Regions from separate parts of the Homo sapiens genome. Here region 1 is linked to region 2. Evidence: fine-mapped expression QTL. A gene starts in region 2. The other region holds a variant in brackets. All regions are shown on one strand. Distances are between the middles of the regions.

Region 1 (5,524 bases), 23 kb after region 2:
GTGGGAACTTAGTGTGGGCTGAAGCAGACTAGATAAATTTCAGCAAGGAATAATGTGAGCTGAGCTCAATGATGGGTAAGATTTATTTAAGTACAGAGGGAATTTGGCATTTCAGGTATAGGAAATAGTTCCTAAGAGGTGAGACATATAGGTATCTATGGATATAGAAAGTTATAGGTTGGGCGCAGTGGCTCAGGCCTGAAATCCCAGCACTTTGGGAGGCCAAGGCAGGTGGATGACTTGAAGCTGGGAGTTTGAGATTAGCCTGGCCAACATGATGAAACCCCATCTTTGCCAAAAATATACAAATTAGCCGGACATGGTGGCAAGCGCCTGTAATCCCAGCTACTTGAAAGGCTGAGGCAGAAGAATCGCTTGAACCTGGGAGGCAGAGGTTGTAGTGAGCTGAGATCATGCCATTGCACTCCAGCCTGGGCGACAGAGTGAGACTCCGTCTCAAAAAGAAAAAAAAGTACAATATTTATTCTAAGAAGTAGAAAAATAAAGTTAGACATGTTAATAATATATCATTATTATTATAACTACCACTTACTAAACTCTTTAAATGTTTAATGTTTAAATTAAGCTTGCTGATATCATCGCTTTCATCCTTACCGCAGTCCTATTAAGTAGGCATTAACACCATTTTGCAAATGGGAAAACTGAGGGTAAGCTGATGGTCAGTAACTTACTGTAATCATGCTAGCTAGTGTGAGAATCAAACCCATGTATACAAGTCTGTTCCTAGTCCTAACGTTAGAGTTCATCATCATCATTAAGGAAACCTGCTTAAAATATGGGTCTCTGGAATCATTTTAAATAAGAATTATTCAAATACAGGGGCTCCAGAATTATTTCTACCAGCACATTCTAAAGATGCTGTGAGGACTATACTTTAAAATCACTGCAACTGGCAATACTGTCTCAAAGTTATAAGATTGAAAAATATGGATATGATAAAATACTACAGGTCCTTGGGTAAATAATAATGTTGTAACAGTCAATACTTGCTTAATGCACTATGCCAAGCACTGTTCTAAGCACTTCACATTGAATCTTCAAGAAACCCTATGAGGGCTAGGCACAGTGGCTCACGCCTGTAATCCCAACACTTTGGGAGGCCGAGACTGGAAGATCACTTGAGGCCAGGAGTTTGAGGCCAGCCTGGGCAACACAGCAAGAGCTCATCTGTACACAAAAATAAAAAATCAGCCAGGCATGGTGGTGTGCACCTGTAGTCCTAGCAACTCAGGGAGGATGAGGCAGAAAGATTGCTTTAGCCCAGGAGTTATAGAGGCTGCAGTGAGCTATGATCATGCCACGGCACTCCAGCCTGAATGACAGAGCAAGACCCTATCTCTAAAACAAAACAAAACACTATGAGGTAGATACTATTACTATTCTATTTTTAGAGATAAGGAAACTGAGGCATAGAGAGGGTAAGCAACTTGCCTAAGGTCACATAGCTAGTATGTGGCATTTGAACCCAGTAGTCTCACTCCAGAGTCCTTGCCCTTTACTACTAGGAGTGTATGAGGAAAACAATGCTTAGCAGGTAAGACAGGTTACAGGGTGTGAGGCGTGAAGGCAGGATATAAACTCTGAGACTTTTTATTTGTAGGGGCTCCAAACTGAATAAAGCAGCTATTAGAATCAAATCTTTATTTCTTAATTGGATTAAACGAAGGGAATCCACTATATTAAAGAACTGTAAAAAAATACTGGCCAGGTGCAGTGGCTTACACCTGTAATCCCAGCACTTTGGGAGGCCAAGGCGGGCGGATAACCTGAGGTCAGGAGTTTGAGACCAGCCTGGCCAACATGGTGAAACCCCATCTCTACTAAAAATAAAAAAATTAGCCGGGTGTGGTGGCACCTACGGTCCCAGCTACTTGGGAAGCTGAGGCAGAAGAATCGCTTGAACCCGGGAAGCAAAGATTGCAGTGAGCCAGGATCGCGCCACCACACTCCAGCCTGGACAACAGAGACAGACTGTCTCAAAAAAAAAAAAAAAAAATTAATATCATTAAGAGAAAAAACAAAAACCTAAAACTTATCAGAGCTGTTTCCAACTCGAAACCCCTCTCCCAGTTAGCTGAAATACCATGCATGCCTCAATACTAAGGATGAGAAAGAAGGCCTTCAAAAAAGAAGCCAACCCACTACCAGTAAGTCACTCATCTAGCCTGAGGGACAGTCCCTCCTACCCCTCCTACAGCTGCCAATTCCCACCGGAGAAGTGACTCAGAAGCTGCTTTGACAGAATCCTTAAATGATTTAACAAAGGAATTCAGGACATAACGAATTTTACCTTCATCTGTTGTCTTTTCTGTTTCAGCACCGACCAACAACTTGAAGCCACAGCCTAAATACATGCAGAGAAAAGAAAGATTTATATATAGCTATATAAACATTTCCATTTTTATTAGAAATTCAAAGTTTATGGGTCTAAAACGTTCAATACATTCATTACTAATAAGAACTAGTCGGCCGGGCACAGTGGCTCACATCTGTAATCCCAGCACTTTGGGAAGCCGAGGCGGGTGGATCATGAGGTCAAGAGATGGAGACCATCCTGGCCAAGACGGTGAAACCCCATCTCTACTAAAAATGCAAAACAAAATTAGCTGGGCATGGTGGCGCATGCCTGTAGACCCAGATACTCGGGAGGCTGAGGCAGGAGAATTGCTTGAACCCGGGAGGCGGAGGTTATAGTAAACAGAGATCGCGCCACTGCACTCCAGCCTAGCGACAGAGCAAGACTTTGTCTCAAAACAAACAAACAAACAAAAAACAAAACTAGTCAGGGTCCTCACATTGTTTGAAAATATTAATGAAAAGGTATTTCATTTTTATAAATTTTTAAATCATGAGCAAAGTTGTATGTTGCAAGGGCAAAAAAAAAAAAGTAAAATAATATTTAAAAAATTAAACACAAAGCCACTAAAGGAAAAAGACTGCACTCTGGAACAAAGGAGATTCAATTTTCAGAGTTTTAAAGTTCTGTTCCTTAAGGGAAAAAAGTGAAAATATGTGTATATAGAATTCACATACACAAATAAATATTCTATGTGTAATAATAAAGTAATTTTTCTTCTTCTTTTTTTTTGAGACAGGGTTTCACTCCCATTGCCTAGGCTGAAGTGCAAAGGAGTGATCTC[G/A]GTTCACTGCAACCTCCGCCTCCAAGGCTCAAGTGAACCTCCCACCTCAGCCTCCTGAGTAACTGAAACCACAGGCACACACCACTGCACCTGGCAAATTTTTGTATTTTTTTTATAGAGACGAGGTGTCACTATGTTGCCCAGGCTGGTCTCAAACTCCTGAGCTCAAGTAATCGGCCTGCTTCGGCCTTCCAAAGTGCTGGGATTACAGGCATGAGTCACTGTACCTGGCCTAAAGTAATTTTTTTTCAAGAATAGTACTATTGGAATATTTGTGAATAGAGCTAACAGTTTGATCCAAATAAAGAACTAGGAAATACAACCATGACAGGACAAAAGCACCCAGTGGATCCTGAAGAAATCTGACCCTTGGAGGTGATTCCAGGAAGGAAAAAAAAAAAAAAGAAAGAAAAATCTGACCCCACTCTGGCATGACCCAGCTTTGATCAAGGTCACTTTACCAAATCAGTTACAGAAATGGAGAACATGTACCTTTTATTATTAAAACATACTTAATTGAGGCAAAATGAATTTATTTAAAATGCTTTTAAGTTTAATATCAGTAAGTTCCAAAATAATTGTGAAATTGCCAACTGGAACATTTTTTTAAAGGTATCCAAACTGCATCATAAAATATATCCACCCTACTTTGCTTCCAGGTGCACACTTAAAGCCCAACAAAAACCAATGTCAAACAGGTTTGAGAACAGAAAAGAACAGAAGCTGAAAAGAGAATTTCATCTGAAGATGTTATGCCGTATATGCCTGAGCTGAATATCAAAGGATGAGCTCAGTTTCCATACATTATTTCACAGACAGATGTATATGTAAATCTTAACAATCTACCCAGTTTTGACATTTTTTTGAGATAGAGTTGCACTCTTGTTGTCCAGGCTGGAGTGCAGCGGCACGATCTCGGCTTACTGCAACCTCTGCCTCCTGGGTTCAAGCGATTATTACACCTCAGCCTCCCGAGTAGCTGGGATTACAGGTGCCCACCACCATACCCAGCTAATTTTTGTATTTTTAAAAGAGACAGCCTTTCACCATGTTGGCCAGGCTGGTCTCGAACTCCTGACCTCAAATGATCCACTTGCCTCAGCCTCCCAAAGTGCTGAGATTACAGGTGTGAGCAACCGCGCCTGGCCAACCACTTTTTTGTTTGTTTGTTTGTTTATGAGACGGAGTTTTGCTTTTGTTGCCCAGGCTGGAATGCAATGGCTCAATCTCAGCTCACTGCACCTCCCAGGTTCAAGCAATTCTCCTGCCTCAGCCTCCCGAGTAGCTGGGATTACAGGTGCCCGCTACCATGCCCAGCTAATTTTTTTTTTTTTTGTATTTTTAGTAGAGATGGGGTTTCACCATGTTGGCCAGGCTGGTCTCAAACTCCTGACCTCAGGTGATCCGCCTGCCTTGGCCTCCCAAAGTGCTGGGATTACAGGCGTGAGCTACTGCGCCCAGCCTCACTTTTTAATCAAACTTAAAAGGCTGAGAAAGGTTAACCACCACTTACTGTTTCTTTGAAGGATGAGTTTAGCCATCGATTATTTACTACATTCTGTATGGATGTGGGTGGGTTTTCCAAATCTTCAAAGGAGTCCATTAATATAAAATCCAGAACAACATCATAAAAATTTAGATTTTTCACCTGCATTAAATTATGAGTTGAAACAGAAATTATTATTACATAGAGCTGAAATAAAATCTGAGCCAGGGCTTTATGGTTTTATAACAGCAGGGGTTTTTTTTAATCAGCTTATTCAAAAATAAAAAATAAAAGGAGAGATAAATATGAAAGCTCGCCACTAGAAATTACGAATTCACATTATCGCTGCTCCTTCCTAGATCTCAAGTGAAAATAATCTCTCCTCCTCTCTATTCTAGGAGTCCTTTGTTCACGCTTCTATTATAACATCCAGGATGCTCATTCTGCCTTGTTATTTAGTTACTGGTATATGTGCCTGTCTTCCCCACCAGATCATGAACATCTTGCTCTTTCATTCATTCATACATACACACTCTACATACTACATGCTGTACCAAGTGCTCAAACTTCTAGAGTAAGCAAATTAGACGCCTAGAGTATAGTGGGGAAAACAGCAACAAAATAATCCTGCAAATATCCAATTATGAACTGTGTGAAGCACAATAAAGGAAAAAGTATAGTGTGCTGTATCATTTTGGCAGAAATGTGGAGAATGAAACAGGGGAAAGAATGAATGCAGGGAGGAAAGGAGTGAGCAGGGAATCGGGAAATATAAAGACTACTGATGTAGCCCAGAGAAAAGACAACAGGCACTTAGGCCAAGAGGGGTGACAGAAAGAGAGAAAAGTCGAAGAAACTGAAAGATATTTAGGAGTTA
Region 2 (5,000 bases):
GTTAAGAATGTTATAAATCATTTTCTCTCCAAATTATAAACTACCAAGATGTTCTGTGTGTGTGTGGCCTACATAACTATAAAATAACAGTCCTCTCTTCTATAAAAACGTTTAGACTTTTACCTGTCTGTTACATACTTTTCCACATTCACTGCATTATTTTCTTTCTTTTAGGTGTGCACAACTCTCATATTTAAATAATCCCCCTTTTTTTTGTCTTTTAGGGTATTTCAAAGATAACAGGTATTTTTTTTAATAAATGAAGTATGTCATTATAGGCCGCTCAGATTCTAAGCAATCTGAATCCCCAATTAATGTCTTCCAAATATGCATATTTAGTTTTTATTCTGCTCAAAAATGAAACCCTAACCTAAATACTTCAAGTGAAATTTCAGGGGAAAAAGACTGTTCAAAAACCTAGATAATGCATTCCTTTGTTGATGCTAAATATAGTCATCTCAAGATGACATACATTTTGACAATGATCAGCCTTACATGTCAAATTTTCAAAAATAGCACAAATTCCATTTTAAGGTGAGCAGGAACAATTGCTATTCATTACATTTCAATTGAAAATGGATTTTAAAATATGAATCTTTTATTAAAACTGGATTACATTGTAACTATGATGAGGAAAACTGGATTTAAAATAATTTTGTTGTGGTTTTAGCTTAGAATTCTTTAAGGGAATTGCAGATAAACTACATAATTGCATGCATTTTTCTTTAAATTGTTCCTCAGAAGCATTAGTCAAAATATAAAATATCTGCAAAAATACGGTGTTAATTGTAAGGAAGAAGAAACTTAAACAGCTACATTGGTTAATCAAAGTTTACTTATACAAATTATACCTCCCCCCAAAAAACCTTTCTCTCATTTGATTAATTATGCATTTTTTCTTAACAATACCCCAAACTCAAAAGAATTTGAGACAAAGTTTTCTAACTGCAGCAGTTTAACCTGTAAAGGATAATGTTTAGCGGGGGAAATTATGTGGTCCACTCAATAACGTGTGACTAAGATATAAATAACGTGTGACTAAGATATGAACTTAAGTATAAATACTTAAGTTTATTTAATCACATTACCTAAGACATAGTTATGTTGTGACTCGAAGGCCAATGGGCCGCTGCTACATGAATTCATTAACAAAATTTAACGATGAATGATATTCCCGTTGTTTTGGTCAGGGAACTAATTTCTTTATTATGGCTTCTTTTCTCTACCTGTGTCTTCACCAAGGACATTTTGTTAGGACATATCCTTATGCTATTTTTACCTTGTTATCTCTCTGCCAACTTGGTTCACGTTGTGCTTTAATAACTATAAAATGAGCATCTCTAAGTCACTGCAGTAACCAACTATAACCTCTCAACTTCGTCATTTTCTTTATAAATGCCAATGCTAATGCATTTGTAGAACGTTTCACAATTTACAAACAGCTGGAATGGTTTGGCGTTTTCAAAAGCATATAGGCAAAGGGAGTTCTCAAGAGGTGACTACATTCTTCACTCACTTAAACTACGTAAACTTCGTAAACTTCCAGCCCTAGTTGCTCAACCCCCAGCATCCCACCTCGGGCAGAATCACGAAAAAAAAAAAAAAAAGGGTTGGAGACAGGAGTGGGGGGATATGCGGGGGTGTGGGGGGGGAGTAATAGGCTGTTAAATCATATTTCTCCCCATCTTCCACAGAGACCGATCAGAAAGGATTTCTTAACTGGCACTGCTGGCAGAGACGGAGACCGCGGCTGGGGCAAGTGGTGGGGGACGGCACTGAACTTCCCTAAGGACCCCAAGGGTTCAGCCGAGGGATCGGCACCCACTCCGCTCACAGAGGGCTCCCTCCCTACAGTAGGGAACGCACCCGAAACTCAGCCGACAAGGCGCAGGGGAGCAGGGCAAAGACATTGCAACCAGAAGCCCAAGGCCGGCCGACACTTTCAGACCCTGGGGCAGCCCCTGGTAGGCACCCCGCCGAGCCCGCAGGATGCGGCTCCAAGGCAGGGTTCGCCCGGGCCGGGGCCAGCGCGGACCACAGCTGTATGGCGCCCGGCGCCCTCCGGAGCTGCAGCGGAGCACGGCCAGAAGCCGCAGACCCCGAGCGCCTCTCTGCAGCCGCCGTTCCCGCCCCCGCCCCCACCAGGGGACCCGACACCTCCGTCTCCACTCCCCCCAGCCCACGTTCCCCCAACTCTTCTCACCCTGCAGGAGCCGGTGACCGGCGAAGGTACTTCTTTCCGCGTGGAGGGACTGTGCGCGTCCCGCCTGGCTGTGGGTAGGGGTCTGGGAGCTCTGGCCGCTAACACTTCTGCTCCAGCCGCTGGGAGTCCTCTGGCTGCCGCTGCCGCCGCCGCCGCCGCCGTCTCCAGCAGCAAGTTTCCATAAAAGTCCTGGTGTGCAGCCTGTTCCCGCATTCCAGGCGGGCCCAGCGCCGGCTGCAGCTGTTCCAAAACACAAGGCCAGTTCCCCCAACCCCCCACCTCCGCCGTTATCACCCGGAGTGGGGGTGGAGAGTTGAGGAGAAAAGCAGGGGAGGGGGACCGTGGCTGCCAACTTTCCGCCAGAATTTGTCTGTCTCCCGGCCCTAGGTGCGCGAGCTGACCCCCTAACTTTGGGCCTGCCTCCACCTCCAGCCAGGCCTGGGGAAGGAAGGCTGCCTCCGCCATGGGAAAGGAATGAGGCTGAAATGGGCTTCATTACCGGGCTGAAGCTGGCTCCCCCTACCCGCAACCAGTTTGCTCTGGGGCCCACTTCTCTCAGCTACTCTACCCGTCCTAGTTTCCAGTCAAGAAGCCAAGCCACTACATATCTTCTACTACCCTAAGCATTGACCTTTGGCCAAGTTTTCCTTTATTACAAAGAGCGTGGGGCAGCAATCCGGGAACACTTCATCTGTCTATTGCTCCCCTGTTCTTAGCTCCAGTCTTTAACTCTAAAAGGAGAGTTAAAAAAGAAGAAGAAGAAGAAGAAGAAGAAGAAGAAGAAGAAGAAGAAGAAGAAGAAGAAGAAGAAGAAGAAGAAGAAGAAGAAGAAGAAGAAGAAGAAGAAAGTTGAAGGCAGAGGAGGAGGAGGAGAAGAAAAGAAGGAATATATTTATATAAGTACAAATATCTTTATATTCCACCTTTTTCTTAATTGAAGGCAAACCATATCTGGTCTTTCTAAAGCTTCATAAAGGCATCTTTGACTATTAGACACCCACAGACCTTTTTCAACTTGGACCGCCAGCCTGTCAAACCCATCAGACAATACCATATTAAAACCCGAAATGCACACTCGGAGTATTTTTGGTGGACGAGATCTTTAATTCTTCACTGCACTTGAAAAAAAAATCGAAATGACATCCAGATAAAGAATAAAGGTAACCACTTCCACCTTCAGGCCCTAAGCAGACAGCGGTGCTCAGGTTATATTTCAGGGATGTTGAAAAGGCCTTCTGGGCTGGGCGCGGTGGCTCATGCCTGTGATCCCCGCACTTTGGGAGGCCGAGGCGGGTGGATCACTTGAGGTCAGGAATTCAAGACCAGCCTGACCAACATGGCAAAAGGCCGTCTTTACTAAAAATACAAAAAATTAGCCTAGTGTGGAGGCACACACCTGTAATCTGAGTTACTCAGGAGGCTGAGGCAGGAGAATCACTTGAAGCCAGGAGGCGGAGGTTGCAGTGAGCAGAGATCATCCCACTGCACTCCAGTCTGGGTGACAAAATGAGACTCTGTCTCCAAAAAAAAAAAAAAAGGCCGGGCGCGGTGGCTCCTGCCTGTAATCCCAGCACTTTGGGAGGCCAAGGCGGGTGGATCACCTGAGGTCAGGAGTTTGCGACCAGCCTGGCCAACATGGTGAAACTCTATCTCTACTAAAAATGCAAAAAATTAGCCGGGCGTGGTGACGTGCGCCTGTGATCCCAGCTACCTGGGAGGCTGAGGTTGAAGAACCCACTTCGCTTGAACCCGGGAGGCTGAGGTTGCTGTGAGCTGAGATGGCGCCATTGCACTCCAGCGTGAGCAACAAGAGTGAAACTCCCTCTCTCTCTCTGTTTCTCTCTCTCTCACACCCGTACACACAAAAGGCCTTCTACTCAAATATAACTCTGTTCCCCAGTCCCATCCCCACAGTATTTACTCAGGATGGAAACTTTTCTAAGGAGGGTAAGCCATTCATTCCTCGATTACAGAAAAGTTCAAAATTGGTAATTAAAATTATTTAAATGTACCGAACTACGGATAGTGATAGGTGGTCTTGGTAGTCTTGCTTGTGCCCTTGCTCTCTTTGATGCCATCACCTTGGCCTTCTTCAGTTCATGAAACTTTCTATGGGCAGTCTGGCTGCAGGGCCTTTGTATAAGTTGTTCCCTGCATGAAATCCTTTCTCCCACTTTCCCCTTCACCTAACTTCAACATATCCTCCCGATCTCTTCTTAAATGCTGCTTCCTCGGAGAAGGCTTCCTTGCATCCCACCTTTCTCCCCACCTTGCACCTCACCTTTCATCCCACCTTTCTCTTCCCTATATATATATATTCCTATTTATTTGCTTATTTATTTATTTATTTATTTATTTATTTATTTATTTATTTGGAGATGTAGTCTCGCTCCGTCGCCCAGGCTGGAGTGCAGTGGCACGATCTCAGCTCACTGCAACCTCCGCTTCCCCAGTTCAATCGATTCTCCTGACTCAAAAGTAGCTGGGATTACAGGCGCGTGCCACCACACCTGGCTACTTTTTGTATTTTTAGTGGAGATGGGGTTTCACCATGTTGGCCAGGCTGGTCTTGAACTCCTGCCCTCAAGTGATCCACCCACCTCGGCCTCGCAAAGTGCTGGGATTACAGGTGTGAGCCACTGTGCCCTGCCCCTATACATATCAATTTATAATTACATATTTATTTCTGTGATTTAAAGAAGTGAGTTGGCTGAGCATGGTGTCTCACGCCTGTAATCCCAGCACTTTGGGAGGCTGAAGCGGGTGGATCACTTGAGGTCAGGAGTTCGAGACCAGC

What was found. PIP is the estimated chance that this variant, and not a neighbour inherited with it, causes the effect. A credible set is the group of variants that fine-mapping cannot tell apart.
Region 1: its variant is the best candidate, but not a certain one, in a credible set for the expression of NEXN in whole blood (INTERVAL, PIP 0.86).

The regions. Positions count from the first base shown.
Region 1 is chr1:77,863,179-77,868,702 of GRCh38, reverse strand. It overlaps MIGA1 (mitoguardin 1), which reads right to left. Exons shown (of 16, transcript NM_001416120.1): 13 at 4,675-4,809; 14 at 2,312-2,365. Among named protein-coding and RNA genes, the nearest start is that of NEXN, 23 kb to the left of the region's middle. The variant G/A (reference allele first, on the strand shown) is at 3,162.
Region 2 is chr1:77,885,963-77,890,962 of GRCh38, reverse strand. It overlaps NEXN (nexilin F-actin binding protein), which reads right to left and starts at 2,339. Exons shown (of 13, transcript NM_144573.4): 1 at 2,204-2,339. NEXN-AS1 (NEXN antisense RNA 1) reads left to right here and starts at 1,424. Exons shown (of 3, transcript NR_103535.1): 1 at 1,424-1,495; 2 at 1,695-3,363. RefSeq lists a silencer at 1,955-2,094 and an enhancer at 2,335-2,394.